Homo sapiens: one gene and its partners. The protein of the gene in region 7 purifies or fractionates together with the protein of the main gene of each other region. This does not show direct contact. Each region holds a gene or a part of one and is shown on either strand. Other genes may lie near its edges. The genes, in order: NID1, NUCB2, PPT2, CCDC138, TBKBP1, TOR3A and ANGPT4.

Evidence for each region.
Region 1: the proteins of ANGPT4 (region 7) and NID1 purify together in Homo sapiens (affinity purification with mass spectrometry; one large-scale study listed by BioGRID and IntAct). This does not show direct contact.
Region 2: the proteins of ANGPT4 (region 7) and NUCB2 purify together in Homo sapiens (affinity purification with mass spectrometry; one large-scale study listed by BioGRID and IntAct). This does not show direct contact.
Region 3: the proteins of ANGPT4 (region 7) and PPT2 purify together in Homo sapiens (affinity purification with mass spectrometry; one large-scale study listed by BioGRID and IntAct). This does not show direct contact.
Region 4: the proteins of ANGPT4 (region 7) and CCDC138 purify together in Homo sapiens (affinity purification with mass spectrometry; one large-scale study listed by BioGRID and IntAct). This does not show direct contact.
Region 5: the proteins of ANGPT4 (region 7) and TBKBP1 purify together in Homo sapiens (affinity purification with mass spectrometry; one large-scale study listed by BioGRID and IntAct). This does not show direct contact.
Region 6: the proteins of ANGPT4 (region 7) and TOR3A purify together in Homo sapiens (affinity purification with mass spectrometry; one large-scale study listed by BioGRID and IntAct). This does not show direct contact.

What each region holds. Positions count from the first base shown.
Region 1 is NC_000001.11:235,975,072-235,978,090, forward strand, and holds the end of NID1 (nidogen-1 precursor), read right to left. Parts: intron 2,918-3,019; coding exon 2,796-2,917; 3' UTR 759-2,795; downstream 1-758. UniProt on the Homo sapiens protein: Sulfated glycoprotein widely distributed in basement membranes and tightly associated with laminin. Also binds to collagen IV and perlecan. It probably has a role in cell-extracellular matrix interactions.
Region 2 is NC_000011.10:17,311,134-17,314,891, reverse strand, and holds part of NUCB2 (nucleobindin-2 isoform 1 preproprotein), read right to left. Parts: intron 3,700-3,758; coding exon 3,609-3,699; intron 3,021-3,608; coding exon 2,962-3,020; intron 2,865-2,961; coding exon 2,772-2,864; intron 1-2,771. UniProt on the Homo sapiens protein: Calcium-binding protein which may have a role in calcium homeostasis. Acts as a non-receptor guanine nucleotide exchange factor which binds to and activates guanine nucleotide-binding protein (G-protein) alpha subunit GNAI3.
Region 3 is NC_000006.12:32,152,853-32,157,192, reverse strand, and holds the start of PPT2 (lysosomal thioesterase PPT2 isoform a precursor), read right to left. Parts: upstream 3,053-4,340; 5' UTR 2,789-3,052; intron 2,607-2,788; coding exon of another isoform or gene 2,599-2,606; coding exon 2,416-2,598; intron 2,164-2,415; coding exon 2,010-2,163; intron 1,506-2,009; coding exon 1,410-1,505; intron 1,323-1,409; coding exon 1,215-1,322; intron 1-1,214. UniProt on the Homo sapiens protein: Catalyzes the cleavage of thioester bonds from S-palmitoyl-CoA or S-palmitoyl-N-acetylcysteamine (unbranched structures) but does not have activity against palmitoylcysteine or palmitoylated proteins, branched structures or bulky head groups.
Region 4 is NC_000002.12:108,785,284-108,789,728, reverse strand, and holds the start of CCDC138 (coiled-coil domain-containing protein 138), read right to left. Parts: upstream 2,959-4,445; 5' UTR 2,950-2,958; coding exon of another isoform or gene 2,907-2,949; coding exon 2,814-2,906; coding exon of another isoform or gene 2,796-2,813; intron 1,698-2,795; coding exon 1,640-1,697; intron 878-1,639; coding exon 763-877; intron 1-762.
Region 5 is NC_000017.11:47,692,785-47,697,218, forward strand, and holds the start of TBKBP1 (TANK-binding kinase 1-binding protein 1), read left to right. Parts: upstream 1-1,376; 5' UTR 1,377-1,410; exon of another isoform or gene 1,411-1,879; intron 1,880-1,965; exon of another isoform or gene 1,966-3,294; 5' UTR 3,295-3,328; coding exon 3,329-3,553; intron 3,554-3,926; coding exon 3,927-4,049; intron 4,050-4,304; coding exon 4,305-4,409; intron 4,410-4,434.
Region 6 is NC_000001.11:179,085,015-179,088,772, reverse strand, and holds part of TOR3A (torsin-3A precursor), read right to left. Parts: intron 3,146-3,758; coding exon 2,880-3,145; intron 863-2,879; coding exon 684-862; intron 1-683.
Region 7 is NC_000020.11:871,311-875,068, forward strand, and holds part of ANGPT4 (angiopoietin-4 isoform 1 precursor), read right to left. Parts: intron 3,105-3,758; coding exon 2,974-3,104; intron 2,832-2,973; exon of another isoform or gene 1,811-2,831; coding exon 1,650-1,810; 3' UTR 1-1,649. UniProt on the Homo sapiens protein: Binds to TEK/TIE2, modulating ANGPT1 signaling. Can induce tyrosine phosphorylation of TEK/TIE2. Promotes endothelial cell survival, migration and angiogenesis.

The DNA of each region.
Region 1 (3,019 bases), on a different chromosome or scaffold from region 7:
TCAACTCAGAGGCCATTCTCATCCCACCCAGGGGCCAGCATGAGTGGCACTGCCTGTTGGTGGCAGCTTAGAACAGACCAGGGGTCTCACTCCATAGCCAGTGCCAGGAAAGCATCTTTCTTCCTTCTGGAGGTAAAAAGAGAATTAAAACATAGCTTATCTCCAGAGCTGAATCAGAAAACTTTTTCTATTGCCTGCTTGTAGAATATATTTTCTCAATGAAAACAATATCCAAAAGGGTGGCTTGAAATCTATAATATAATTTATTTTTTATTTTTTTTTTAAGTTTTTGAGATAGGGTCTCACTCTGTTGCCCAGGTTGGAGTGCAGTGGCACGATCATAGCTCACTGCAGCCTTGGCCTCCCGGATTCAAACAATCCTCCCACCTCAGCCTCCTGAGTAGTTGGGACTACAGGTGTGTGCCACCATGCCCAGCTAATTTTTTTTTTTGATGTTTTGCAGAGATGGAGTCTCCCTGTATTGCCCAAACTGGTCTCAAACTCCTGGCCTCAAGTGATCCACCCACCTTGGCCTCCTAAAGTGTTGGGATTACAGGTGTGAGACACTGCACTCATTTTTAGGTAAATTACAACCCCTAAGGTTTTTTGTGGTTGAGAAACATACTAGCTCTCATAATACTGGGATAAGAGTTTCTGGGCTCCACAGGTTTTGCAGATTATTAAGTGGCTGTCTGTCTGTCTATCATGAATCAGCCTCCCAACATTAAATCTCTTCATTCAGAAAAGATAGAGGAAGATTTTCTTTTTTAAAAAAAGTTTATTTTCCACACTATTTGTACAGCTGTAAACTCAAGGAATCATCCAATACTTGTACAAATCTGGGAGAACAGTTAATAAGCACCTTCAGTGGTTTCCACAGTTTAAGAATTTACCATTAAAAAATTTTAGAATAAATCTAATAAAATGAATAAAATAGTTATAAAAATCATACAAAATCATGATGAACATTTGATATAGAGGGTTTAATATGAAACGATAAATACAAAAAGTGAGACTAATTTATGGATTTGGGCTACGTAAAAGACCTACATGGTCCTCGAATCTTGTGATTCTTGGGGCTATATTTGCCTCTCAAGACAAACTCCAATTATTCAAGGAAGACTTTCTTTCAATTCAGGTTCCAATGTACTGCAGAAGCAAGTGAGGACAAAGTCAGGAGAAGGTGGGGCAGAGAGGCTGAGTGTACTGGGGTTTGAGGAAAAGAGGAGAGACTCTTTTCCCCAAAGAGAGTATCAGGCAAATTCTTCCATGTTCTCAAGTATAAGTGGTCTTTGGCAAAATGTACCATTTTCTTTTTGGAGTTACTTAAGAGTTTTACTTATTGCTGTTCTTAAATTCCTTCCCCTACCACTTCCTCTTGGGCTTTTTTATTTCTCTTGTTGATCAATCTCTTTTTTGTGATACTTTTCATTGAATCATCTCGACTCCTTTATCCCATCCTTTACTGACTCAAACTCCTTATGCTGAACTTTTCAATCCAAAATTTCTATTGTTTTAGGACTCTGGGAAGCAGTTGATAAAAAGATAACACGAGCTACTGATATGGTCAGGAGATGTTTTCTAAACAAATTGTAGAAATATAAACATGAAATGTGGCAATGATCCCTTTAATTAGATCATTGAGCAATAAAGGATATGAACCATTAGTATAAATATTCAATTCAGTCTTTCCGGATTGTGTTGTTAGATAAGAATACATCCAAAAAGGGCCACAGATCGAGGGAGAAACCAAGGAGGGGTGAGGTCATGGTTGAGTGTAAATTGGTTCTGTCATGTGGAGGCCGGAGGTGAGGGACTGTGGTGGGACATCATCTGGTGCCAGCCCCATCCTGTACCTCAGATAGGTCTCCGTGAAAAGGAGGGACATCAGTGCAAGCAGTGGGGCTAAAGACCAGCACAGCAACAGAGACTAGAACCTTGGATGCAAGTATTTTGGGCAAAGAGGAATAATTAGTAATCTTTGGTATAATTTAAGGCACATCAAAAAAATCCCCTATTCTCAAATATCTGACCTACACCTTGAAATTCCTACCATTGGACATTCTTTTGATTTAAGCCTTTAACTAACAAATGCCAATATCCTACTGCTCAAATATTGACATTCTATCTGGGAGGGGCTGCTCATTATCATCCACCAAATGCCCATAGATCTCTAGGACAGGGTAGGTTTTGATGAAAAAGCAGCGCATGAATATTATAATGGGGGTCTTAGACAAGATGATGATGGTGAGGAACTGAGGAGTAAAACTATAGGACTATAATAAAGAAGAAATTCAGAGCACCAAAACAAAACATTAAGGAATGCTAATTTCCTCCTTAACTCCCAACTTTTCCTAGTCAGGCCCCGGCTCATAGGTCAAGGAGCTGACAGGACGGTGGGTACCTCAAAGCGAGGCTGAGCTCATAAGGCCACAGGGAAGGGTGCAACTCAAATTTGGGAGGTTCTGTTCACCACTGGGGGGCTAGTATTGGGAAAAGGTCCTAGGACACTGGGATGGGCATGTAATCCTCACTCAGGGGTGTATAAGTCTGTCTGAGGGTTGGGGGTAGGGGTGGAGGGTTCTGTCCTTGTGTAGGGGTGGAGACTTTTCTATTAGAGAAGTCCAGGGTGCATGTTTTGGGGAACAGTGAGGGAAAAGTTGTTGGGGCTCAGGCTGGGCTGGGTCTGGGCCTAGTGGCCACTCAGCCAGAGGACACTTTTCAATCTGGACCAAGTTGCTTCAAGTAGAGTGTTGCTGTGAAATACTTGGAAAGGAAATAAGGCACTCTTGTCTTCATTTCTGTTCGATACAGTCAACTCCCAAGGTGTTGTCAGGGCAACGGCAGGTCCTGCTCCCTGGGGTGGCCAAGCATAGGTGGGTGCAGCCGCCATTGTTCACTGAGCAGTAGTTATGGCCTGGAAAAGGCAGAAATCAGTTCAATAGCCCTCTCTCTGATCTGACTCCATAGCCATTTAAGATAGTGGGCTCCTTCTTGTGTGTGATCCCCCTTTTAGTTT
Region 2 (3,758 bases), on a different chromosome or scaffold from region 7:
CCTCTTGTACAGCTGTTACAGGCTGTGGCAAATTTCGTTACAAAGGTGTAATCTATAATGGTCAAAGAAATTCACTTGATAGTTGGGATGTCAGCAGTCAACAGAGACCCCAATTTAGCATTTACCACTCAAAAATTCAGATGAAAGTTACTGAAGCAAAATAGTGGGATTCAGTTACCCTGCATATGATGCCTATATCAGAGTTTTTGGCTTAAAGGGAGGAGAGGCAGAGCAAGAACTGCAGAGAAAGGCAAATATTTAAATGAGCGTAGTCATTGGATGGACCATGGACATTTGAGCACAGACTCGGTGGAAGTAAAACCTTGTGATGATCTAGAAAAGGGGTATTCCAGAAAAAAGAAATATTAAGTCCAAATGCCCTAAAATGGGAACAAGCTTGATGAGAGGTAAACATCAGAAGGCCAGAGGAGAGAGAGTCACAGAGAGCAAGGCAAGGATGAAGTCACGAATCTTTTGGAAATAGGAGGGATTTGGGATCATATTACAAGGGAAATTGCAAGCCACTGAAGTATTTCTGTGCAAGAGAGCACATGACCTGATTTATGCTTTTAAGAGCTTACTCTGCCTACTTATGAAGAAGTGTCTGCAGTGGGGTAAGGAATAGAAGCAGAGATGCCAGTTAGGAGACTTGCTTGGACTTGATTGGTATTAAATAGTAGTGGAAGTGGGGGGAAGTGGTCAAATTCTGGATCTGTTTGAAAGATAGATCAGACAGAACTTATAGAGGAAATGCAGGATGTGAGGAAAGAAGTTAAGGATGACTTAGCCTGAGCAACTAGATGAATTATGATTCATTTGTTGAAATGAAAAAGGCTGAGGAAGGAACAGATCTGGGTTTGAAGAAGATGTGAGTTAAACACAAGGAGAACTGTCAAGCAGATACAACCCTAGAACTCAGAGAAAGGAGACAGCTGAAGATAAAAATGTTGAACTCACCAGCATACATGCAGATATAGAGCATATATAGAGACATGGGGCTCCACACTATCACTTAAGGAGAGAACGAAGCGAGAAAGGAGAACACGGCCAAGGGATGGGCCCAGGGCAATGCAACATGTAGAACTTGGAAAGAGGAGGAAGAGCCAGCAAAGAAGAGAGAGTGAGGTATGAGGAAACTGAGGAGGGGTGGTTTCCTAAAAGCCAAGTGAAGAAAGCATTTCGAGAAAGAGGGAGGCATCAACTGTATCAGCACAGATTAAGGCGAAAAGGAAAAGTGAAGAATTAACAGGAAGAGGAAGAATAGACAACTCCTTGAAGAGAAACAGAGAAATGAGGCAGTAACCAGAGGTTGTTGTTTTTGTTTTTCAGTACTGAAAAAAGGGTTTGCTTTGGTTTGGTTTTGAGATGGAGTCTTGCTGTGTCACCCAGGCTGGAGTACAGTGGTGTAATCTTGGCTCACTGCAAACTCTGCCGCCTGGGTTCAAGCGATTCTCATGCCTCAGCCTCCCGAGTAGCTGGGATTGTAGGTATGCACTACCACACCCAGCTAATCTTTGTATTTTTAGTAGACACAGGGTTTCACCATGTTTGCCAGGCTGGTCTCGAACTTCTGACCTCAAGAGATCCACCTGCCACGGCCTCCCAAAGTGCTGGGATTATAGGCATGAGCTATCATGCCCAGCCCAAAAAAAAAAGTTTTATACCTGATATGCAGTAGCATCTTTATCTTTTAGAATATTTTAAAGTAGTTACAAATTATTTTATTCATACTAAAGGCATCTAGTATAATAATCTGGATCAAAAATGCAAACTTCAGCCTGGGCAACATAGCAAGACCTTGTGTCTCCAAAAATTAAAAAGTTAGCTGACAGCCTGGGCAACGTAGCAAAGACATGCTGTCTCTTAAAAAAAATAAAAATCGGCCTGGTGCGGCGGCTCATGCCTGTAATCCCAGCCAGCACTTTGGGAGGCCGAAGTGGGTGGATCACTTGAGGTCAGGAGTTTAAGACCAGCCTGGCAAACATGGTGAAACCCCATCTCTACTAAAAATAAAAAAATCAGCCAGGCGTGGTGGTGCATGCCTGTAATCCCAGCTACTCAGGAGGCTGAGGCAAGAGAATCACTTGAACCCGGGAGGCAGAGGTTGCAGCGAGCCAAGATCGCACCACTGCACTCCAGCCTGGGTGACAGAGTGAGACTATGTCTCAAAAACAAACAAAAAAGGCCAGTGGCTCATGCCTGTAATCCCATCTATAATCCCAGCACTTTGGGAGGCCAAGGCGGATGGATCACCTGAGGTCAGGAGTTCAAGACCAGCCTGGCCAACATGCTGAAACCCTGTCTCTACTAAAAATAAAAAAATTAGCTAGGTGTGGTGGTGGGTGCCTATAATCCCTGCTACTCAGGAGGCTGAGGCAGAGAATTGCTTGAATCTGGGAGGCGGAGGTTGCAGTGAGCCGAGGTCGCGCCACTGCACTCCAACTTGGATGACAGAGTGAGACTCCGTCTCAAAAAAAAAAAAAAAATATTAGGTAGGCATGGTGGCTCCAGCTTGTGGTCCCTCCTCAGTCTCAGGAGGCTGAGACCAAAGGATTGCTTGAGCCCAGGAGGTTGAGGCTGCAGGGAGCCATGATTGCACCACTGCCTCCAGCCTGGGCAACAGAGTAAGACCCTGTCTCAAAAAAAAAACAAAAACAAAAACGCAAACTCCATTTAAATACAAATTCTGTATATTTTCCATCTTAAAGATTTATTGCAAGAATTAAATAATACATAGAAATAACATATTATCTTAAACTTTTAAAACATACCTCATTCATTACATGTTCCCTCATTCTAAGCCTTTCTTCTTCCATTTCTACCATATCATCCTCTTCATTTTTAGGGTCATATACTTTCTCCAACTAAAAAGAAAAATTTTAAATGAACATGAAAGGAAAGAAAGTAACAGGAAAAAAAGAGAGAGAACAAGAACACTGAATACTTAATAAACTCCTTTACCTCTTTAGTAAATAGGGCTTCTAATTCTTGTTCATCCAGGAATCCATCACTATTGACATCTAAAGTTTAAAAGTTACAAATGCAAAAATAGATTTTAATAACTTAGAAAATAATTAAAATACAATGATTTATAAAGGGTTTACAAAAGTAGTACTGATGTGAAGCATCAATAGACTGCAGAAAAGCATTTATTCTTTGTCATGAAGCTTTAGATCAGCTGAACTGATAAATATGCTGTATTTATTTGTAATTCATAATCATTTGTAAGGAAAGCGTATCTTGACCATTTTTTTCCAAAAATATAAAGTAAAGCAATATTCTATGAGAGTAGAAGTAAAATGTAATATTATAGTATAAAGCCTATTAGATATAACCTAGCTAGTCACAGTTTAGTTTTCACTTAACAGAGAACTTTGCAGTAATTCATATGACTCAACAGTAAAAGCCAGTATAAAGACAGAGCTACTAATCTAAAACATTTTATACTGCAGGTGAGCAATAAAGACTATCATATTACCCTAGAAAAACTCTAACCATTTACTCTCACTAGAACTCAATAGCAGACCTTGGCAGAAATCAATTAAGAGGAAAGCAAATACTTTTTCAAGCAGCAGATATAAATATTAATATTTGTATCAAATCGTTACCATGTAATTTGAAAAATGTCTTGGGGTCAAAGTCATTAGGATCCAATCCATCAGTCTCTTCCCATACCTCTTTTAGTTGATCTTTGCTTCCCTGTGAACCAATTTTAAAAAATTGCTCAAAACAAAATATAATCTATCTGTACAGACTCA
Region 3 (4,340 bases), on a different chromosome or scaffold from region 7:
CTTTTTTTTTTTTAGATGAAATCTCACTCCGTCACCCAGGCTGAAGTGCAGTGGCAGGATCTCCGCTCACTGCAACATCTGCCTCCCGGGTTCAAGCAATTCTCCTGACTCAGCATCCTGAGTAGCTGGGATTACAAGCGTGTGCCCACATTCAGCTAAATTTTTTTTGTATTTTTAGTAGAGATGGGGTTTCACCATGTTGGCCAGGCTGGTCTCGAACCCGACCTCAGGTGATGCGCCCACCTCCCCCTGCCAAGATATTGGGATTACAGGTGTGAGCCACCACACCTGGCAATAGCAAGTACTTCTATCTAGTATCTACTATATGAGCCAGGTACTATTCAAAGTACATTGCATTCATTTATTTATTTAATCCTTACAACCACCTGGTGAAGTACATGCTATAATATTTTACAGATAAGGAAAACTGAGTAACAGAATGGTTAAGTAACTTGCCCAAAGGCACCCAATAGGGTCAAGATTCAAACCCAAGTATTCTGGCCCCATGGTCTGGTCTAGAGGTTGGCAAACTGTGACCAAAGGACCAAATCCAGCCTGCTACTTGTTTTTGTAAATGAAGTTTTACTGGAACACAGGCACATTCATTCACATATGGTACATGGCTGCTTTCACACTACAACAGCAGAATTGAGGAGTTGTGAAACAGACTATATGTCCTACAAAGTCAAAAATATTTACTCTCTGGCCCTTTATAGACAAGGTTTGCTGACTCCCACATCAGACTAAACCTTCTAAGGCAATAAGGTGACACACTTAAAACATTCTGGGCCAGGTGCAATGGTTCACACCTGTAATCCCAGCACTTTGGGAGGCCGAGGCGAGTGGATCACCTGAGGTCAGGAGTTCGAGACCAGCCTGGCCAACATGGCGAAACTCCATCTCTACTTAAAATACAAAACTTAGCCGGGCATGATGGCGCCTGCCTGTAATCCCAGCTACTAGGGGGACTGAGGCAGGAGGATCACTTGAACCTGGGAGGCGGAGGTTGCAGTGAGCCAAGATGGTGCACTGCACTCCAGCCTGGGCAACAGAACAAGACTCCGTCTCAAAAAAAAAAAAAATTCTGAACAGAGCCTGTTCAAATAACTCAATAAATGTAAGTTATCTTTATTGTCATCACTGCTATTGGTTGTAGCAGAGGTGGAAGCAACTGACCTGATCCATGGAAGCCCCAGTTCAGCATCCCCACTCACCATGCCAGTAGTTGCAGATGGAGAATTCCTGGCCCCAGGGGCTATAGCAGATCCGATAGAGGTTAGACCGCATGGAGGTGGGGAACAGCCACTTCAAGTAGTCCGTGTCTGGCAAGCGAATGGCAATGCTAAGTGACCATAAACCTCTGTTCCCCCAAAACTCAGGGCATTCTATGGAGTCTAGTGCCCACTCACCTCCATACTGTCCCATCTGTGGAGAGGAGAGGGAGATGAAAGAATCCACGTTGTGATCATCCATGACAGAAAGCAGAGCCCGGCACACAAGGCCCCCTGTAAGCAGAACACCACATTGGGCAGGCACTTAAGGACAGCAAAGCCAGCAGCACCCCCCACCCCCACCACACACACACACACACACACACACACACACACAGAGACACACACAGACACACACTGTACACAAAGGAGACTGAGGCTTACAGAAGGCAGGCACACCCTGTGCCAAAAGGTCACACATCATATAAGTGACTGAGCCCGAATTAGATGCTGGGCCTCCTGCCTCTAGTTCTAGGATGTTTTTACCTGCCCCATTAGCCCTTATGTCCAAGAACCATGGGTAACAGGAAGCAAAAGGGCAGCAGTGTAGGGAGCCTCCCTCCCATTCAAGACAGAGATGAGACCCAGGTGCTGAGGGAAGTCAGAAAGGAAGGGCTCAGGTACCAGGGTTGTGCCTGGAGCAATGTGGTTCAGAAAAAGGGACGCTAGGAAGTGTCCCTCAGATAAGGATCAAGCCTCAGATAGGGCTTAGGAGTTAGGGGCAGGGGAGTCGCCTACCCTGCGAGTAGCAGATGAGATGCACCCCTTGAGGGGCCTTTGCCATGATGGGGACCACAGCCTCTCGGAACCCTTGCACCTGTTCCCACAGGGGTCGCAAGCTCTCTCTCCCATCGAAGAGATCGAGCACTGTCACCACAGTCCCGGGGTGTGTCTGTGGGAAGGGGGCAATGCAGCCACCGGGGATAGGCTAAGAAGCTCCCACACGCCACCCCCTGGCCCGCGTCCACAGGTCTATTGTACCCTGCTAGAACCAGGGATCCCGTCCCCCAACTCTCCCCCACGCCAGCACCAGCTCCCTGAGGAACTGGGCAGGCCCAGAGGGGTGGCTTTCAGTTCCCCGCTCTCCCTCCCCTGCCACAGTAGACGCCTCTAACGCCCTGCACCCAGGTGTCCCCTGCCAGACCTCATTGATGTATTCCAGCAGGTGGCGGAAGCTGTACGAGCTGTCGAAGAGCCCATGCACCACGATGACCGGCTTGTAGGACGCGCGGTGGGGCGCGGGGGCTGCAAGCAGCAGCAGCGGCAGGAAAGGCAACAGAAGCAGGACCCACGCCGCGGGGAGCCGCTGCCCGCAGAGCCCCAGCATGCTCCCGCCTGAGAAAGGGGTGATAAGGGCATGTGAGGGAGATGGCAACACCCTCCTCCCTCGGAACAGACGCCCGGCAATCAAGCCACCTCCTCTCGCTCCCACACCAGGTCCGTGTCACAAAATAGCCTACTTTTAACTTACTCCAGCCCTCTCCCTACAAACACACCCCCCCACCACGTTGACGCACCAACGCGCACCCGAAGTCCCGCCTCCAACTCAGCGTTCGGGGGACTTGTTCTCTAGGTCCAGGATCTTCCTAATGCATCGCCTCAGCCATGAACAACGCGGAGTTCTTTAATACCCGTGAGCAGCAGCCCAGGCCCCTTGAAGAGTGCAGACTCCCACCTGGCCTGGGTCCGTAGGCCTCGCTCCACCCGCTGTTTACTTATCCCAAGTCTGGAACCCACGGTGGCGGGGGGAAGGGTGAGGAAAGAGAGCGCAGGGGAATGACGGATGGGAGGGGGAAGGGCGGGCTGCTTGGGGTCGCGCAAATCCGTCACGTCCGGGGCTTTCTCTGGCAACCGCGCGAGCGTTCCCCGCAACACAGACCCAGGACAGGAGGGGCAATGGAATATTCCATTGCGCCCTAGGTGCTGGGGAGGAAACAGGCGGAGCGATCCATTTAGGCCAGTGGGGAGAGGAAAAAGCAGCAAACATATTCTGGGAATGGAAAGAAGGCCTCTCCAGGCTTCGTTGCCCCCAGCGACCCAAAAGTCCGATTTCCCCGCCTTGATTCTCCCCACTTCCCAATACAGGCGTCTGGCTCCGCAGCAGAACACGAAGTTTGCATTCCCCAAGGGGCGGCCAGGGGGCGGACCAGGGAAAGGTAGTCCTCTGCATTTTGCCGTGTGCTGGGTGAGTGGCAGGGTGGCCTGGAGGGCTGATGCCAGCCCGGGCGTGCCCCTCAACACCCACCCCACCCCACCCTCCAGTCCGCCCCAGGTCAGCGACTTACAACTCTTCATTCTGAAGTGCGTGTAGTGCCCTTGTCTCCAGAGACGCAGAGAGTCCTCGAGGCCCCTTGAGCTAAGTGCAGCCTGGCCCAGTTTCTCCTGCCCTACTCTACTCCCCTCCCTATAAGCGACCCACCCTCAAGGGGCGGAGGGCGCGTAGGGATGCGCTGACTCATGCCCGCGTAATTTCGACCAGTCTTTCAACCTGAACGACCCCCAGAATCTGGCTGTCTGAGTTATCTGTGGGTGGCTCCCTACCGAAACCCCCAGGCGCCCCACCTCTCCGCCTGTGACCCCTAACCGACACCCTAGTGCCTCAGGGCTTTTACTTGCTAGGGCTTTTACTTAGCATTTAAAGACGTTTCTCTAGAGATAAGGATTTCTCAGCATGTCTGAGCCCCTCTCTCTGTTTACAAGGTCATTGCTTGGTCTAAATTTGTCTCAATCAAAACATTTTTGCGCTCAGAATGGTGTAGAGTGACGATGAGGTGGCGGTAAGGGGTTGAGCGCTCACGCGAACGCCTAAGTGACCAGAACGACTGGTGTGAAGCCGTGATCTGACTCTGTGGAGCCTGGGACTGGTTTCAGCGAGAGCCTCTGTACTGCTCTGTAGTCTCTGCTAGGACATGGACGAAAAGGGACGCAGCCGGGAGAGCGACTGCCCCAGGTGGGGGCTGGGGGGACGTAAGGGAAGAATAATAATTATCTGGCTGTGTTTTTGTTTAAAAAAAAAAAAAAACTGGTGTAAATCTCCATAGACTTCCTATCCTCGCTCCCTTCACCCAC
Region 4 (4,445 bases), on a different chromosome or scaffold from region 7:
CCCAGACCACCTTCTTCAATCTCTCTCAATCACCTAAATACAATGCATACAATACCAGACACACCAGAGATAGTAAAATGCTGCTGCCTAACAAAACCTGTATGGCAGTTTTTTTTGTAGTTCGTTTTTTCTTTCTTCAGGACAGTTTTGCTCATCACCCAGGCTGGAGTGCAATGGCACAATCTTAGCTCACTGCAACCTCCACCTCCCGGGTTCAAGTGATTCTCCTGCCTCTGCCTCTCAAGTCGCTGAGATTCCAGACGCACACCACCAAGCCTGGCTAATTTTTCTATTTTTTAGTAGAAACGGGATTTCACCATGTTGGCCAGGATGGTCTCAAACTCCTGACCTCAGGTGATCCACCCGCCTCGGCCTCCCAAAGTGCTGGGATTACAGGCGTGAGCCACCGCACCTGGCCCATAGTTCCTTTTCTAAAAAAAAATTTTTAAAGAAAGGGAGCAGAGTCTTCATTTGGGTCCTGAATGAATAACCATAAAAATATATTTTTTCATCTTTTACATTATATAAATAACTTTCCATTATGCCACTAAATATAATGCTAGGTCTATGCTTTTATTACAGAGATTCTCAGTAAAAATTAATAAGTGACTCGCTTCAACTATTTAGCAGGCTCCAGACTGCCTTATACTTGTCCTCATACTTGTCCTCAGGAAAGAGCAAAAATATAACCTGCCCTTTTCTCTTTCTCAGTTTTTTGAGATACTGAGGGGGTAGCAACAGTAAAGTTTCAGGGTACTTTACCAATTCACATTTACGTGCTTGAATAAGCTGCCCAATGGTGTTCTACAATGCTTGCTTTCATCAGAATATTTTAACGATGAACCAACTTTATCTCCAGAGTAGATATCCAAATCACCTGTCAACGACAAAGAAACCATGAAAGATTACCACAACAATATATCACAAAATATCTGGCACTGGCCATAAGTCTAAATAATACTATTTTTAAAATCTTCTCTCTCAAATTTTTTTTTCTTTTTTTTTCTTTGAGACGGAGTCTCGCTCTGTCACCCAGGCTGGAGTGCAGTGGCGCAATCTCGGCTCACTGCAAGCTCCGTCTCCCGGGTTCACCCCATTCTCCTGCCTCAGCCTCCTGAGTAGCCGGGACTACAGGAGCCCGCCACCACACCCGGCTAATTTTTTGTATTTTTTTTAGTAGAGACGGGGTTTCACCGTGTTAGCTAGGATGGTCTCCATCTCCTGACCTCGTGATCCGCCCGCCTCGCCTCCCAAAGTGCTGGGATTACAGGCGTGAGCCACCGCGCGCAGCCTATTTTTTTCTTTTTTGAGACTGAGTTTCGCTCTTGTTGCCCAGGCTGGAGTGTAGTGGCGCCATCTCGGCTCACTGCAACCTCTGCCTCCCGGGTTCAACCGATTCTCCTGCCTCAGCCTTCCCAGCAGTTGGGATTACAGGCGCCCGCCACCATGCTCGGCTAATTTTTTGTATCTTTAGTAGAGACGGGATTTCACTATGTTGGCCTGAGTGGTCTCGAACTCCTGACCTCAGGTGATTCGCCTGCCTCGGCCTCCCAAAGTGCTGGGATTACAGGCGTGAGCCACCGCGCCCAGCCTCAAATTAAATTTTTGAAACCCCCAAATATACAAAATACCGGCTTACCTGGGGAGGTTAGAGTTCTTCTCTTATACTTAGACTGATAAAAATTTGAAAAATCATACTAAAAAAAAAAAGAAAAGATTTAATTTGTATACTAAAAATCAATTTACTGTCTCAAAATATTTCCCCACAAATTATGTATTAATTACAAAGGTTAGAGTGGAGAAATCTTGTAGACACCATCTTAACCAAGTGATCAAAACTAATATCATCAATAATGTGACAAACCAACGTCATGTTCCTCCCCACAGCAGGCCACACATCACTCATCTCATGCTCCTGCCAAAAATGCATAATCAATCTAACGAAGAAGCATCTATAAGATAAACCCAAACGGAGAAACAATCCAATAAATAATTCTTACACTTCTCAAAAAAAAAACAACCTTACAGAAAACAAAGGCTGTGAACCTGTTCCAGATTAAAGGCAACAAAAAGGACAATCAAATACAATCAATGCTCGTTCTTGGGTCGGATCTGCACTAGGAAAAAATTTTCCTATAAAAGGTTTTATCGAGATAATTGCTGAAATTTCTTATGAACTCTAGATTACCAAATATTATACCAATTCTAAATTTCCTGAAAATATTACTGTGGTTATTAAAAGACAACGTCCTTATGCTTAGGAAAAATGCACAAGTTATTTCTATTCAGAGGTAAAGGGGCATGATGCCTGCAAATCACCCTCAAATAGTTCAAAGGGAAAAAATGCGTTTGTAGGGAGGGAAGGGGAGAGAACGAATGGTAAAGCCAATGTGGCAAAATATTAATTTGTGAATGCAAGTGAGGGTACAAGGGAATTCTTGGTAATACTGCAGCAACTTTTGAGTAAGTCCGAAATTATTTCGAAATAAGCCGCTTTTAAAAAGCAATTCAATTGTTTTCACAACTCCACTCACATCACTGCAAAAAAAAGCTGAATAGCACTTTCTCCAACACCACACCATGCCCAGTATACCAGGAACACAGAGGCATAGGTGAAGCGGCACCCCCGCACCCCCGCAGCGCAACGCCCGCCCCTCCCGCCTGCTTCCACGAGGCCCAAGCCGCAGCCACGGCGGGAGTGCCGGGGCCGGGACCAGAGCCGCTGCGCGCCCCCAGGCCGGCTGCGCGGGGCACGGAGCGGGCCGCCCCCCAGCAGCAGGAGCCCACCCGCGGACCTCAGGCGGCGGCTTCACCTCGTCGGGGCAGCTGCCCCCGAGTCCGTAGCGGCTTTTGAGACTCTCCACTACTAAATCCTGCCCCGGTGGCTTGACGACCCTCGGCTCCATAGCACACAGCAACCGTACCAGTCTCCCCGGGAACCGCGTTCATCAAACCCGCGGCGCTACGCGGCCGCAGTGCGTCACGACGTGCCAGACCCCGCCCCCCCGAGGCACGCACGGCGGCAGGGAAAGGGCGGGGCGGGGCGACCCGGAGACTGCAGCCCGGCTTGTCAGCGCGTCCTCCAAGTTTCTCGTGCTAGCACTACACACCTCGTAACTGAGTAGTATTGCATCTCCCCGCGATAGTCCTGCCCCGGCTGCCTGGGTGCCACGGGTTGAGGGGCACCGAGGCCCCGCACCTGCCTGCAGCGCTCCGCTCCAGCTCCATTTAACCTGTTAAGTTTGGTGTGCGTTGCGCTCACCACATAGACCGGTCGTTCCATCAGAAGTGACCTTTGCTAACTGCCATATAAAAGAAAAACCAAGAGTATATCTGAGCCGGGAGTGGTGGCGCGCGTGTAGTCCCGGCTGCTAAGGAGGCTGAGGCGGGAGCATTGCTTTGAGCCTGAGAGTTACATCTATCTTGGGTAACATAGCAAGACTCCCATCTCTTAAAGTTAAAAAAAAAAAAAAAAAGGGAAAGCTGAGCATAGACATTGCAGATTACCTCACTTTCCCTGTGTTCCATATGGGGTATAACAGGGTATTAAAAAGAATAGTTAGAATGTAAGCACCCTGGAAAAAAAACTTTTTTTTTTTGAAAAGAAAAAAGCTTTTGCCAATACCTACAACAGTGCTAACCATAGTACATAGTATACATCAACCTGAAAACCTATGTTAAACAAAACTGACTGAGGGGAACTGTACAACCACTTCATTTTTCTCATTCATAAAATTACAGTGGTGTAATCTTTTACTTTCTAAATTGTGACTGTCAGCTGCATCTCTGGACTAACAACTCCTAAATTCTCTGGATTAAAGTTCCCAAATGCCCAAGTTTTATAAAATCTGTACTTCAGCAGTTATTATCTGAAAATTACTTAGGCCATACTTTTTGCCATAAAGTACCACTTAAGATGTACAAATAATGAATTTTATTCTATCTTTAAGCAGATTTTAATGAGACAACATAAAATCCAGTTTAAAAGGAAAGATACATATTATCGTGGGTTTAGACCACATCAGTGATTAAATAACAAAGAGAAATCAAAGTCCTTTCCTGAAATGTGACACAAAGACTTTCTCATAAATGCCACAAGCCACTTTTAAGCATCTTTGGAATACTAATACGGGAAAAGTCAGTTTACATGTCATTTTGTCAAATTTTTGGTCAAAGTTTTTAAAGCTTTTTAATTTGTAACTTTAGTGCTTTAGGAAAGCATACAAATCTGTAAAAAGTCTCTTAAAAAGCACTTGCATTAACTTAAGAATTTATTCTAAAATCATGACGAAGGCATCAACTGTCTCAGCTGAAAAGTTACAACACACTTTACATCAGTTTATATTACATAGATTTCCAAATAAGCCAATTTGAAATATTTAGTGTAAACATATGTAATCCATGGTTCAAGACTGAACTGATACATTTGGAGTAGGTTTATTTCA
Region 5 (4,434 bases), on a different chromosome or scaffold from region 7:
GAGAATGAGTCTAGAGCTCTGGCTGGCTCTCCTGGTAGAAGCTCACCTCTCAGTCCAATTTTCTCCCAGCAGTGAGGAAAGATGGCAGCTGCTGCTTTTCAAAGCTCAGAGAGAGCAAGAAACCTTTTCCTTCCATCCTCCCCCTCGGAGATTCCCACCCCCATCCCACCTCAGGAGCCAAAAAGGTAGGCTCAGGTTCCCAGCAGTCTTCGCAGCTAAGGCTGAATCTGCCAAAAGCCCCCGCCCAGCTTATCCCCTGCTTCCGGGCTTTGCCTCCCTGTCCACAGAGGATGCTCTTCAGCCAGAGTGCTCCAGGGTTCCCCTGATCATTCTCTACCTGCAGCTAGGCTGACCATGCCTCTGTCCACATTATTTAATCCACCAGGCAATACTCAAAATGACATCGTTAACACTTCCTGAGCATTCGCAGGCTGCTGTATTTAGTTCTGATCCCCATTCTTCCTCCATGAGAGTGCTTAGGTGGGGCATGATCTCCAGCTTAGAAAGGTTAAGGTAACTTGCCCAAGGTCACACAGCAGGAAAGTAGCAAAAAACTTGTTTCTCTTGCCCAGCAGTTTGGCAGGTGCTCAAATAATCTTTGTGCACAGGGTGACATCTGTTGTTTCTTCATTTCCCTGACCTGTGGGTACTTGAGGGTGGCCGGGGAGTGGTGTGTGGGGAGGGAGATGGCTGTCCTTCTTCATGAATGAATCTTTGACCTCCTTAGTTTACTCTCACTTCCAAAGAAGTTACAGCTTTAATCTCTCTGTACCCTATGTTCAATGTATTTATCGCAGCAATGCCCCTTTTACCAAGAGCAACGAAGAGCAGGTCTAATGATTTCCTTCTCAAAAGCGCAAAGACCAAAAAAAAAAAAAAAAAGCCAGATAAATAGCCCCACTTCCTCCCCAAATATACAGCCCATAACTAAACAACCAAAACAACCAAAGCATCAGCCGGGCCCCTGCACTGACCGCAGACGCCCCCAACACACGCCACCACGCCACACTGCGCCGGGAGGCGTCGGGGAGGGGGCGCCAGCGCGGGCCGCTGGCGCCGCAGGGAGCCGGTGGGCTCCGGGCGCGCTGCCAGGAAGGGCCGCACCGTAGGGGCCGCCGCCTCTCGCCACGTGGTGGTGGCAGCGGCGGGGTCCGGGGCGCCTTCCCAGCTGGAGAAACCCGGAGCAGCCGGGGAGGAGGAGGCGGAGGAGGCGGCGGCGGCGGAGGAGGAGCGGGGCGGACGGGAGGGAGGGGGTTGGGGGGAGGGGTGGGGGGTGGGGAGAGACCCGGCGGCGGCGACAGGGCGAGGAGCAGAGCGCGGTACCAGGGGGGTGGGGGCACTGGTGCCCGTTTGGGGAGGGAGCAGGCGGAGGGGGTAAGCTGCGATTACAAGCAGGAACCGGCAGCAGCTGTGAGTCCCCGGCTGGGGCTAGGGCTGGGGGAGGGGAGCGGCGCCCGGGCTGGGCCCCAGGGGTCGCGGGGTGGGCAGGAGGAGGCGGCAGGAGGGCGGCTGGCAGCCGCACGGGATGGCTGGGAGGGAAGGGGTCCGGTGTCGGCCGCCCTCATCCCCTCGCGTCCCCCTCCGCCGCCGTTCCTCAGGCCGCGCCACTCCCGGAGCCCCTTCCCCGGCCCCGAGAGGGTGTCCGGGGGCCCAGGGCTCGGCCGGTTGTGGGGGAGGGGGCTGCGTGGTCTCGGCCCCCGAGAGGGGAGGGGCGACAATTTCTGTCGGCCGAGCGAAAGGGGTTTAAAGGGCGGCTCTTAAAGGGGCCGCAGGAGGGGCCCGGGCCGACAGAGGCACTCACCCCTTCCCCAGCCGCCTTCCATTGCGCTCACCCGGGCGCTGGGCCCAGAGAGGAATGCGGAGGAAGGAGGCATTTGTGGTGCGGCCTCGGGGACAGAGCCCCGCCAGCGGGGTGGGCGCAGAGGGGCGGGCGGGGGTCTGGGGGGGTGTGGTAAGCGCTGGCGCGCGGAGCTGGGGGGAGGGGATGGCGTGGGAAGGAGAGGGTTAAAGGTGGGGCCGGCCCTACAAACGCGCGCACACACTCCTTACTCAGACCCAGTCACTCGCGTTTCCCTGGCACTTAGATGGGCCTGTGGGTGGCGGAGGGGGGGGGGTGGATTGAATTGGAGCCTGCGCCGGAGCCCTTTGCACCCCAAGCTCCTGCAGCCCGACCTGGGGGCCCCGCTGTCTGAACTCACAGCTCCCTGCCGAGCCCCCTCTCCGGGGTGCACATAACGCTCCAGCGCGCGCACACACCTCGGACAGTCCCCTCGCGTCTCACGTGACACGCGGCCCGGACGTGCCACCCTGCCCACGCGCTCACGCACGCGTGCACACACCAGCCTCCTGGTCGCTGCCCCACTCCGTCCCGACGCCCCTGCGACCCCGAAGGCACTCATTGACTGACACACCTACACTCATTCACAGACGCACACTCCCCCCATACGCCAACCCCAGACACACATTCATAACCAGGCCCGAGAGAAGTACACACGCACCCCCTCACTGCCTACTCCTGCTTTCGGGAGCCTGAGTCATTCCTGCCCCCTCGTAGGGTTCCCCATTTCCCGGTGCGCGGGCACCCTGAGACAGCCTTGGGAATTCGTTCGCGTCCCCTTCCACCTGGGTCCCCTTCCCCAGTTTGCGCCCCGTAACACTCAGCCAAGGACTTCCTGTGGGTCCCAGGTCAGGGGCCAAGGGGTCCTGGACCGCTGCCACAGCCCCGGTGCGCCCGGGGGAGGCGCTTCCTTTTCCTGAACTCTGGGATCCTGCGGGAGGAAGTGGGGAAGTTGGGCGGGGGTGCAGCCGAGGGCGTGCCGACTGTGGAGGGGCCGACCCTCGCGCAGCTCTGGGCCTTCCTTGGGGAGGAGCTGGGGTGCCAGAGGCCCAGGCTGAGGAGCTTGGCGGCGAGGTATTTGGGGAAGTAAGGCCTGGGGTGGAGAAGCGCGGAGGAATGGGCCGGGCCCGGCTGGGAAGGCAGCCCTCTCCCATCCACAGGTCTCCCTGGGTTCTGGCAGGAGCCTGCCCCTGCTGCCGGCCTGGCTTACTTGTCCCTACTTGTCAACACCCTGGCAGCGGGGTCTTCACCTGGTTCCAGCCCCTTTTCCCCAAGGCGGCAGAGAGGATGGGGCTGAGGAGTCTGGGAAGGGGCCATGGGAGTCCCTGCTGAGCTCGGGGCAGGAAGTTTCTGGGTTGCATCTTAGCCGGCCCCAGGGAGTGCAGAGCCAGGGAGAGGGGTACCAGGGACAAACCCTAGACAGACGGCCCTGTCCACGGTTGCTCCTGCTCTCCTAGGAGGCCCCGTGTGGGCCGCGGCCCGGCCCTCACCATGGAGTCCATGTTCGAGGACGACATCAGCATCCTGACGCAGGAGGCCCTGGGGCCTAGTGAGGTGTGGCTGGACAGTCCCGGAGACCCCTCGCTTGGGGGCGACATGTGCTCCGCCTCCCACTTTGCCCTCATCACTGCTTACGGAGACATCAAGGAACGGCTGGGGGGCCTGGAGAGGGAGAACGCCACCCTCCGACGCCGCCTCAAAGTCTACGAGATCAAGGTCAGAACTTGGAGAGGAGGGCGCCTGATAGAGTGTATGGGATGGGGAGGGGGACTGGGAATCTGGTAGATACCAGGGATCCAAAAGAGGGGTCACTGTGCAGACTCTTGGGAACTTGAGGGTCTCCCATGAGAGACGTGGCTGTTCCGGATGCGAACTGTCTCCTGTTGGCTTCAGAAGGGCTGGATCTGGGATCTAAAACAGATCCGGTGGGTGGGAGATGGCTACAGACCCATGGGAATTGGGATCCCACTAGCCAAGGAGAAGGAGGGTCAAAGGTCTGAGGCAGGTTGTGGGTTGGGGGCACAGCCAGGCTGAGGCCTGGGCTGGGCACCCGGGAATCCACTCTCCTGAAGCTCCACCCCACCTGCAGTACCCACTGATCAGTGACTTTGGAGAGGAGCATGGCTTTTCTCTGTATGAAATCAAGGATGGCTCCCTGCTGGAGGTGGAGAAGGTCAGCCTGCAGCAACGGCTCAACCAGTTCCAGCATGAGGTGAGCCTACCAGGCTGGGCGCACCCCCTGAGCATCTTGCTCCAGTCTGTTTCTGATACCCTTCCCTCCACACCCCCCAGCATCTGGCCTCTGCCCTTTGATTAGAGATGGCCAGGTCCTCCCTAAGCCCAGCTGCAGCTCCTCCTGCCCCTCCATAGGGTGCTGGGAGTGGGGGTGGGGAGGTGCAGGGAGCTCTCCAACTCCAAGTCCAGTGTGGGACTGACCCTGTGGTGGGGCCCTCTGGGCCTCATCCAGTTACAGAAGAACAAGGAGCAGGAAGAACAGCTTGGAGAGATGATCCAGGCCTACGAGAAACTCTGCGTGGAGAAGAGTGACTTGGAGACAGAGCTGAGGGAGATGGTGAGGCCTGGGGAGCCGGAGGTGC
Region 6 (3,758 bases), on a different chromosome or scaffold from region 7:
AAGTTGGCTTCACGCAAAGATGTCAGTGAAAGCACAGGAACCTCAGTGCAGTGATTCAGTGACTGGGTCCCGCATGGTAGCGTCACAACTGAACTACAGGTACTCAGAGGAAGCATGGGTTTCTCAACCCGTATACCCTGGATTTTAAGCCAGTGATGACTTCTCATAATCGGAGAAGAAACAGACTTCCAAGGCTGAAGGAAGAAATGGCCGTGTTGGACTTGATGGGAGACTATGCCGTTCTCTAACCAGGCTTGCCTTGGGAATTTGTTTCAAAAAATCTGTCACCCAGATTGGAGTGCAGTGGCCCGATCTCAGCTCACTGCAACCCCCACCTCCTGGGTTCAAGCGATTCTCCCACCTCAGCCTCCCGAGTAGCTGGGACTACAGGCACATGTCACCACGCCCAGCTAATTTTTATATTTTTTGTAGAGATGGGGTTTCACTATGTTGCCCAGGCTGGTCTTGAACTCCTGGACTCAAGGGACCCGGCCGCCTTGGCCTCCCAAAGTGCTGGGATTACAGGCGTGAGCTACCACAGCTGGCTGCTGCTTTCTGTACCAGAGTTTGTGCTGTTTTTTCTTGAGGAAAGGTTCTGAACCTGGGGGCGTGTGGAAGCCTCCACTGCCAGCTAGTATCTTCCCCTCCCCCAGCCCTCCTGACTATTGTTCCCCAGAACCCACCTGAGAAACAGAAAGATAGTCCATGGAGACTCAGCCCTGTGGCCCTCAGGGGCCCGGCGTTCTAAGTGTGGCCCAAGGACCTCCAGCAGCCCTGGGTGCAGCTTCTCCGCTTCATCGAAGATGAACAGGGTCTGGTGGCAGAGCTGCTGCGTCTCCCGGATCTGGCTCATCAGCTGCTCCTGCACGGGATATAGGGAGCAGCTGGGGAAGTGGTGACTCCTTCCACCTCCGGCCTTGAGGGCGTGGTTTCCCCTGGGCATGTGCAATGGACCCCCTGGGGCTGGGTTCCCCACCCCCCGCCCCCCGCCAGAACCTATCAAATCCAAGCTCTTGGGGAGGGCCTAGGACATTTGCATCTGACCAGCTCCCAGGTGATTCTCAAGCACCCTGAGGGTTGAAAGCTAAACAAGGTGAAGCCAGCTTGGGGACTAGGAGACAGCCTAGAAAGGAGTGGGGAGAAGCCCTTCTGCCCTTGAGAAGGGGCCCCTGCTCCAGCCCTGCTCTCTCCTCTCCAGGACTACATCCCATCCAGGAGCTAACAATGTCCACACACCCGCAAACTTTCATTACTTCTACAACAAAAACATCCAGGCGCAACTTCCCTGTTTAAGCTCAGGGTCTATTCCCAGGGGGTGGATAGGAGTTGAGCTTTCATACAGGGGTGATGGGCAAAGAGAGGCTCATGTGCCCAGAGGCAGCCACAGTCCCCTGCCCTGAACTCCCGGGTGCAGAGCGCCCACTGGCACCCTGGCTGGGCCGAGATCTCAGGGGAGCAAGCCTGCTGAAGGACTGACTGGGCCTAACCAACATCCAACTTGGCTCCTGCAAGCTGTGGAGGGTTCCTTGCCCCAGGCAAGACAGTAAACCCTCAAGTGAAAAGATGGTTCTTTGCAATGTTCATCGAAATGGGCAGGGAATATATTATTCAGGGCCAGCTCCCACTCCAGAGCCCACACTCCCTGTCTACTGGGTGCACCTTTGTGGGGGAAAGTGTGAGGTGCAGGGCTATGCACATGCCAGTTTTCACAGCAGGGAAGCTGGGGCTGCAGCAGTCTTGCCACAGTCTAAGCCAGACAGTTCTGCCCGGAAAGGCCCAGCTCAGCCTGCCCCTGCCCTCCAAAGCCATATGGAAACTGCCAGGAGACGCGGGCAGCCTCTGTCCTCAGACGCTGACATAATCTTCCCAGGTGAACACATTCCAAATATTAAAACAAAGCCAAAGACAGGTGCAGTCAATTCTGTCAGGCTCTTCTGGTATGTTTTCAATACTACATGGCTGAATTAGTAGAAGAAACCCAAAATGGCAGAACAGCCAAGGAAATTTCTGTCCATCCACTTGCTGGTATATAATAAGCTGATACGGGAAGACATGAAAAAATCAGGTAAGATAGGATAGGCCTGTTTTCTTTTTTTTTTTTTTTTTTGAGATGGAGTCTTGCTCTGTTGCCCAGGCTGGAGTGCAGCGGCACGATCTCGGCTCACTGCAAGCTCCGCCTCCCGGGTTCACGCCATTCTCCGGCCTCAGCCTCCCGAGTAGCTGAGACTACAGGTGCCCGCCACCACGCCCAGCTAAGTTTTTGTATTTTTAGTAGAGACGGGGTTTCACCGTGTTAGCCAGGATGGTCTCGATCTCCTGACCTCGTGATCCACCCACCTAGGCTTCCCAAAGTGCTGGGATTACAGGCGTGAGCCACCATGTCCGGCCAATAGGCCTGTTTAAATTTTAAAAAGGCAGGATATACAACTTTCTGTCCAACGTAGTTACAATGACAAAGAGCCTGGGGAAAGGTTCCGCACCAAAGGCAGCACATAAAATGCTACCTCTCCTTAGCTGACAAGGGTGTGTCCGTGTGGAGAGTCTGACAGTTTTTGCTTTTCTCTGTTCTACACTGCAGTCTGTGACATTTCACTACTTCTACAACAAAAATCAACATGCAGCGTCCCTGCTTAAGCGCAGTGTCCAGCCTCTCGAGTGTGGCTGTTTGGGGACAGAGCAGGGGGTGGTGTTTGGAACGCCAGTCTCTTCCACATGCTAAGGGCCTCTGTGAGGAGTGGACGGAGTGGCTCTGTCACAGGTTCTGCCACCTGTCCCCACCTCCCCAGGCTTCTCCAGAGCCCATTTCCTTGCAAGGAAGGGCTGGCAGAAGGGTCTCCCTCCCAGCACAGAGGCCTCACCCCAGCCCTGGTCGGCCTCACCTTGTACAGGTCCACATATTTGGGGTGAGGAAAGTGGAACGTGGCGATGAACATCCTGACACAGTCACTCATCAGCCCGTCCCGATACAGGTTCTCCACCAGCATCCGTGCCACGAAGTTCTTGCCTGTGCCAGACCAGCCGTGGAACGACAGAGCAAGGGCCTTTTCTGGCTGGGGCGTCTCTAAGTAGCCCCTCACTGTTCTTAGGACCAGCTGCTGGACCAAATGCTGGCCATGCAGCCGCACATTCAGGTCCCACTCTAAGCCTAAGGACAGGAAAGAGGTAGTCACAGCAAAAGGCACACACAGGCCCATCCACCACAACAGCCAACAGCCAAGAAACCAAGCAACTCTGAATCTCTCTCGGGTGGAATCAGTTACTCCTCCTGTTTGGCCTTAGAATAAGAAGCCAGAGGGCAGACTTTGTAGCAGAAGGGATTCAAGGACTACTTTCTTTTTTTTTTTTTTTTTGAGATGGAGTCTTGCTCTGTCACCAGGCTGGAGTGCAGTGGCGCAATCTCAGCTCACTGCAACCTCCGCCTCCCTGGTTCAAGCGATTCTCCTGCCTCAGCCTCCCGAGTGGCTGGGATTACAGGTGCCCACCACCATACCCAGCTAATTTTTGTATTTTTAGTAGAGACGGGTTTCACCAGGTTGGCTAGGCTGGTCTTGAACTCCTGACCTCGAGATCCGCCCACCTCGGCCTCCCAAAGTGCTGGGATTACAGGCGTGAGCCATTGCGCCCAGCCTCAAGGACTACTTTTTGAAGAGTTTGGGAAATCAAGATGGGACTCAGGGAGAGTGGAATCACCCTTCCTAAAGATCCTGCAGATACCCAGAACAGTTGGCACAGACCTGTCTAGGGAGGAACCCTGTCCC
Region 7 (3,758 bases):
GAGCCAGGGGGATGAAGGGGTCCCATTCCCATTGGCTCAGTCTCATCCAGGAGAAAACCTTCTGAGGACAGAGGTGTATCCTGGCGGTAGGGCAGGTGGGCTCCTGGCTATGCCTGGGTGTTGGCTGATGACAACAGGGCAGACAGCATGACACAGTGATGGGGGCAGGTGACAGAGTAGCTGTGGATCCTTTCTGACTCCATCCTCTGAAAGAAGCTATGAGGGCCCTGGTCTCCCAAACTCAGGCAGAGGCCTTATCTCCTCCCCTGCAGCTCCCCACCTACCACCACAGAGGCAGCATCACTGCTGGATGGGGAAGGGAGGGAGGCTAGGGGTTAGGGCTTGGAGGCAGAGAGGATCTGGACTTGGAGACAGATGTCCTGCCTAACAGTCCCTGTAATTGAGCCTGGGGGAGTTGAGGTTACAGGGAGTCCTAAGGGAAGCCACCCAGGTAGAGATCAGCTTCCTGGGACTTGAAGGAGCCTTGGAGGACATGAGCCTATAACACAGACAGGGACCTAGTTCTAGACCCTTCTTCAGGGATGGTATCTGTTTTAACTGAAAGGTTATTTCCAGTTGTTTTTAGAGGTTGTTTGAGGCTGTCACTGTGGCCCTTGTAGCCAAAAAGGGTGAGTATAGCTGGGGTGGGGATGGGGTCGTAGGGCTCCTCCTTATGCCAGGGGAGCACTAGCTTTGTCCAAGAGCATCTACAGTCCTGTGAGATGCTCTGGGACAAACCGAGCCCATTTTCAAATAAGTAAATTTGGAGAAAGCTGCCCACTCTAGCCCCTTCATGGGTAGTCACAAGGCACTTGGCCATATTAAAGGCTCTGATCAGTCCTGCAGTGAAGAGTGCCTGTTCACTTTGACTTAACCTGCTGTTTCCTTTTCTCATTGCTCATAGGTACTTTTAGAGACAAGCCATAGTTATTCCCTGTGACACATCCTCTAGGACATGCTGGAGGTGAAGGAGCATGTCCTTTTGGGTCTCCTAAAGACCCTGAGCTCCAAACATTGGAGCCTAGAAGTGGTGAAGTGGTAAAGCCTAGAAGTGGTGAAGTCTAAAGACCCTGAGATCTAGGGTCATTAGAACCTAGAAGTGGTGAAGTGTGAAGGGGAAATAATGATTAACCCACCCACTAAGGGGTGGATGCAGCCCCTTCAGACTTGAAAAGAAAGTTCAAGGACATCTCAAGACTAGAAAATCTTGGAACAGGAGCTTAGAATGGGAGATGGCCTTCTTGCCAATCCAAGGGAGAGAACCTGGGCCATCTGGGCAGCTTCCGATGTGCAAATACATTCCCACCTGCCTGCAACCCCACCATTGGTCATGGGAATCAAGTTTGGTCTGTTCTCAGCCCATTCAAGGTACTGTGACCCTCAGGCAGGGAGCCCCTGAAGGGGGAGGGAGAGAAGAGGGGCGAGGACTACATCAGAGGGATGGGCCCCGAACACCCTCCATGTCACAGACGGAGGGGAGTTGGGGGGCAGATGACCCTTCTGGACTTCTGGGTCAAGGAGGGCTGGCTCAGGAAGCCCAGGGTGTCAGGGAAGGCGGTGGCACAGTGTCTTGCATCTGGGTCCAGGTTGTCCAGGAGTGCCAAGTCCGAGCTTCTCCTGTGTGGTCCAGCCTCTGGCACAGCTGCTCGTTAGATGTCCAAAGGCCGTATCATCATGCGAGAGGCACGCAGTGAGTAGCTGGGGCCCTTGAAGTAGTGCCAGCGGATGCCGTCCATCTTGTACTTGTTGTCGGGAGCGTGGTAGTAGACGCCGTTGAGGTTTGACAGGCCACAGGCGTCAAACCACCACCCTGGTGGAAGAGGGAGGACAGGCGCTTGGTGGAGGTGGGAGCCCAGCCAGTGGCAAGAGGGCAGCCCCTGTGTCCCAAAGAGAACAAAGACTAATCGGGGCTGTTGCCTCCTCTGGGAAGCCAGCTGGCTGGGGATGGGGCTGGGTGGGAGTGGGGGTGGGGTGGACAACAGACCCTCTGCTCAGCCGGGGCCTCTAGAGGGCAGCAAGGGGCTCTGGCCACTCCTCGAGCCCCCTTGCTCCTCCCGGCCTTCTCCCTGAGCCCTTGGCGTCCCTGTCTTCCTCCCTCACTGAACCTGTCTTTCCAGCTCCCCAACCTCCCCTCATCGCTCTGCTCACTGCTTTCTAGTGGTCTCTGTCACTCTCTCTGAGTCTCTCACTCTCCAGGTTCATCTCTTTCTCTCTTATGGTCTCTGTGCGTGGGTCTGTCTCTGTGTGTCCCATTGTGTTCATCTTTCTCTGATGGTCTTTGTCCCTCTCTGCCTTTCGTGTCTCTGGCCCTCCCTTCCTCTGGGCCCCCATCTTTCACATGCTGTGTTTGTCTCCCGGCCTCTCCTTGGGCTAAGTCTTTCTCCCCCATCTCCCTCTGTACTTCTCTGCCCCAGTATAGCTCTCCATCTGCTGCTCAATGACTCTGACAGCCTTGGTGTCTCTCTCTTTCTCCATCTGTCCTCTGTGTCTCAGAAGGTCTCTCCCCCTGTCTCTGTTCTTCTTACTTTGTCTCTGTCTCCCATTCACCCCACTTCCTGTTCTCTGACCTCTGTGCCTACCAAGGAACACTGCCTGAGCCACAGCTGGTGTGGAGCTGCCCCTCTGCCTCCCTCTGGTCTCCTGATCCTGGTTCGGCTTGCCTGGGGTTGGGACTGATAGGGTATAGGGTGCCTCCCCCCCGGGGCCCTGCACTCAGTGTTTCTTTAGCCTTGTCTCTGAGGAAAACTGGTGGTGCCAGCTTTAGGAGGAGGTGAGACCTGGAGGGGACTTCAAGGACTCAATGGGGGAAGGCACCGAAGGGGCACAGCCAGGTGAGCTTATGGGTGGGCAAGGCCCAGACCTGCACCCATCCTCCTGACAGCACCTGGGCGCACAAGAACCTGGGGAGGGAATGGGAGTGTCAATCTGGGTGAGCCTGTGGGTGGGCGGAGCTTCACCCCACCCTGCACCTACCTCCAGACATCACTTGGGCACACTTGCAGAGACAGTGGTCGTTGTCTGAGTCAAGGGTGCTAAAGCTGGTGTTCTGCAGGACCAGGCTGCTCTGGCGCCCTGCTGAGCCGCTGTACCCGACCACAGAAAGCCTGGAGGCCACCCAGAGGTGGTGGTGGCAGAAGGGCCCAGAGTCAGGTTGGGGCTGTGTCGAGCAAGAACTTCCCCAGTGGCTTTGTCCCAGGCTGGGCTTCCCCTCCAGGTGTTCTTGGAGGGACAGCCCCAGCCTGGGTGGAGTGCTTGGGCTGTTTCCCTTCCTGGATTGCCTTCCCTGCCTGCTGCCTCCCAGGGACAAAGCACTTACTGTATGCCAGGCCTCCCCTATCTCACTGAACCTGAGTCTTGGAGAGAAGTGATAATGGTCACAATAATGATAATAATGGCTAATACATATACATTTTTTTCTTTAGAGACAGCAACTTGCTCTGTTGCCAGGCTGGAGTGCAGTGGCACAATCACGGCTCATTACAACCTTGACCTCTTGGGCTCAAGCAATCCTCCCACCTCAGTCTCCTGAGTAAATGGGACAATAGGCACGGGCCACCATGCCCAGCTAATGTTTGTATTTTTTGTAAAATACAAACATAGGGTCTCACTATGTTGCCCAGGCTGGTCTTGAACACCTGAGCTCAAGCAGTCTGCCTGCCTTGGCCTCCCAAAGCACTGGGATTACAGATGTGAGCCACCGTGCCCGGCAACGTTTCTTTTTCTTTCTTTTTTTTCTATTCTTTGCATCTACTATGTGT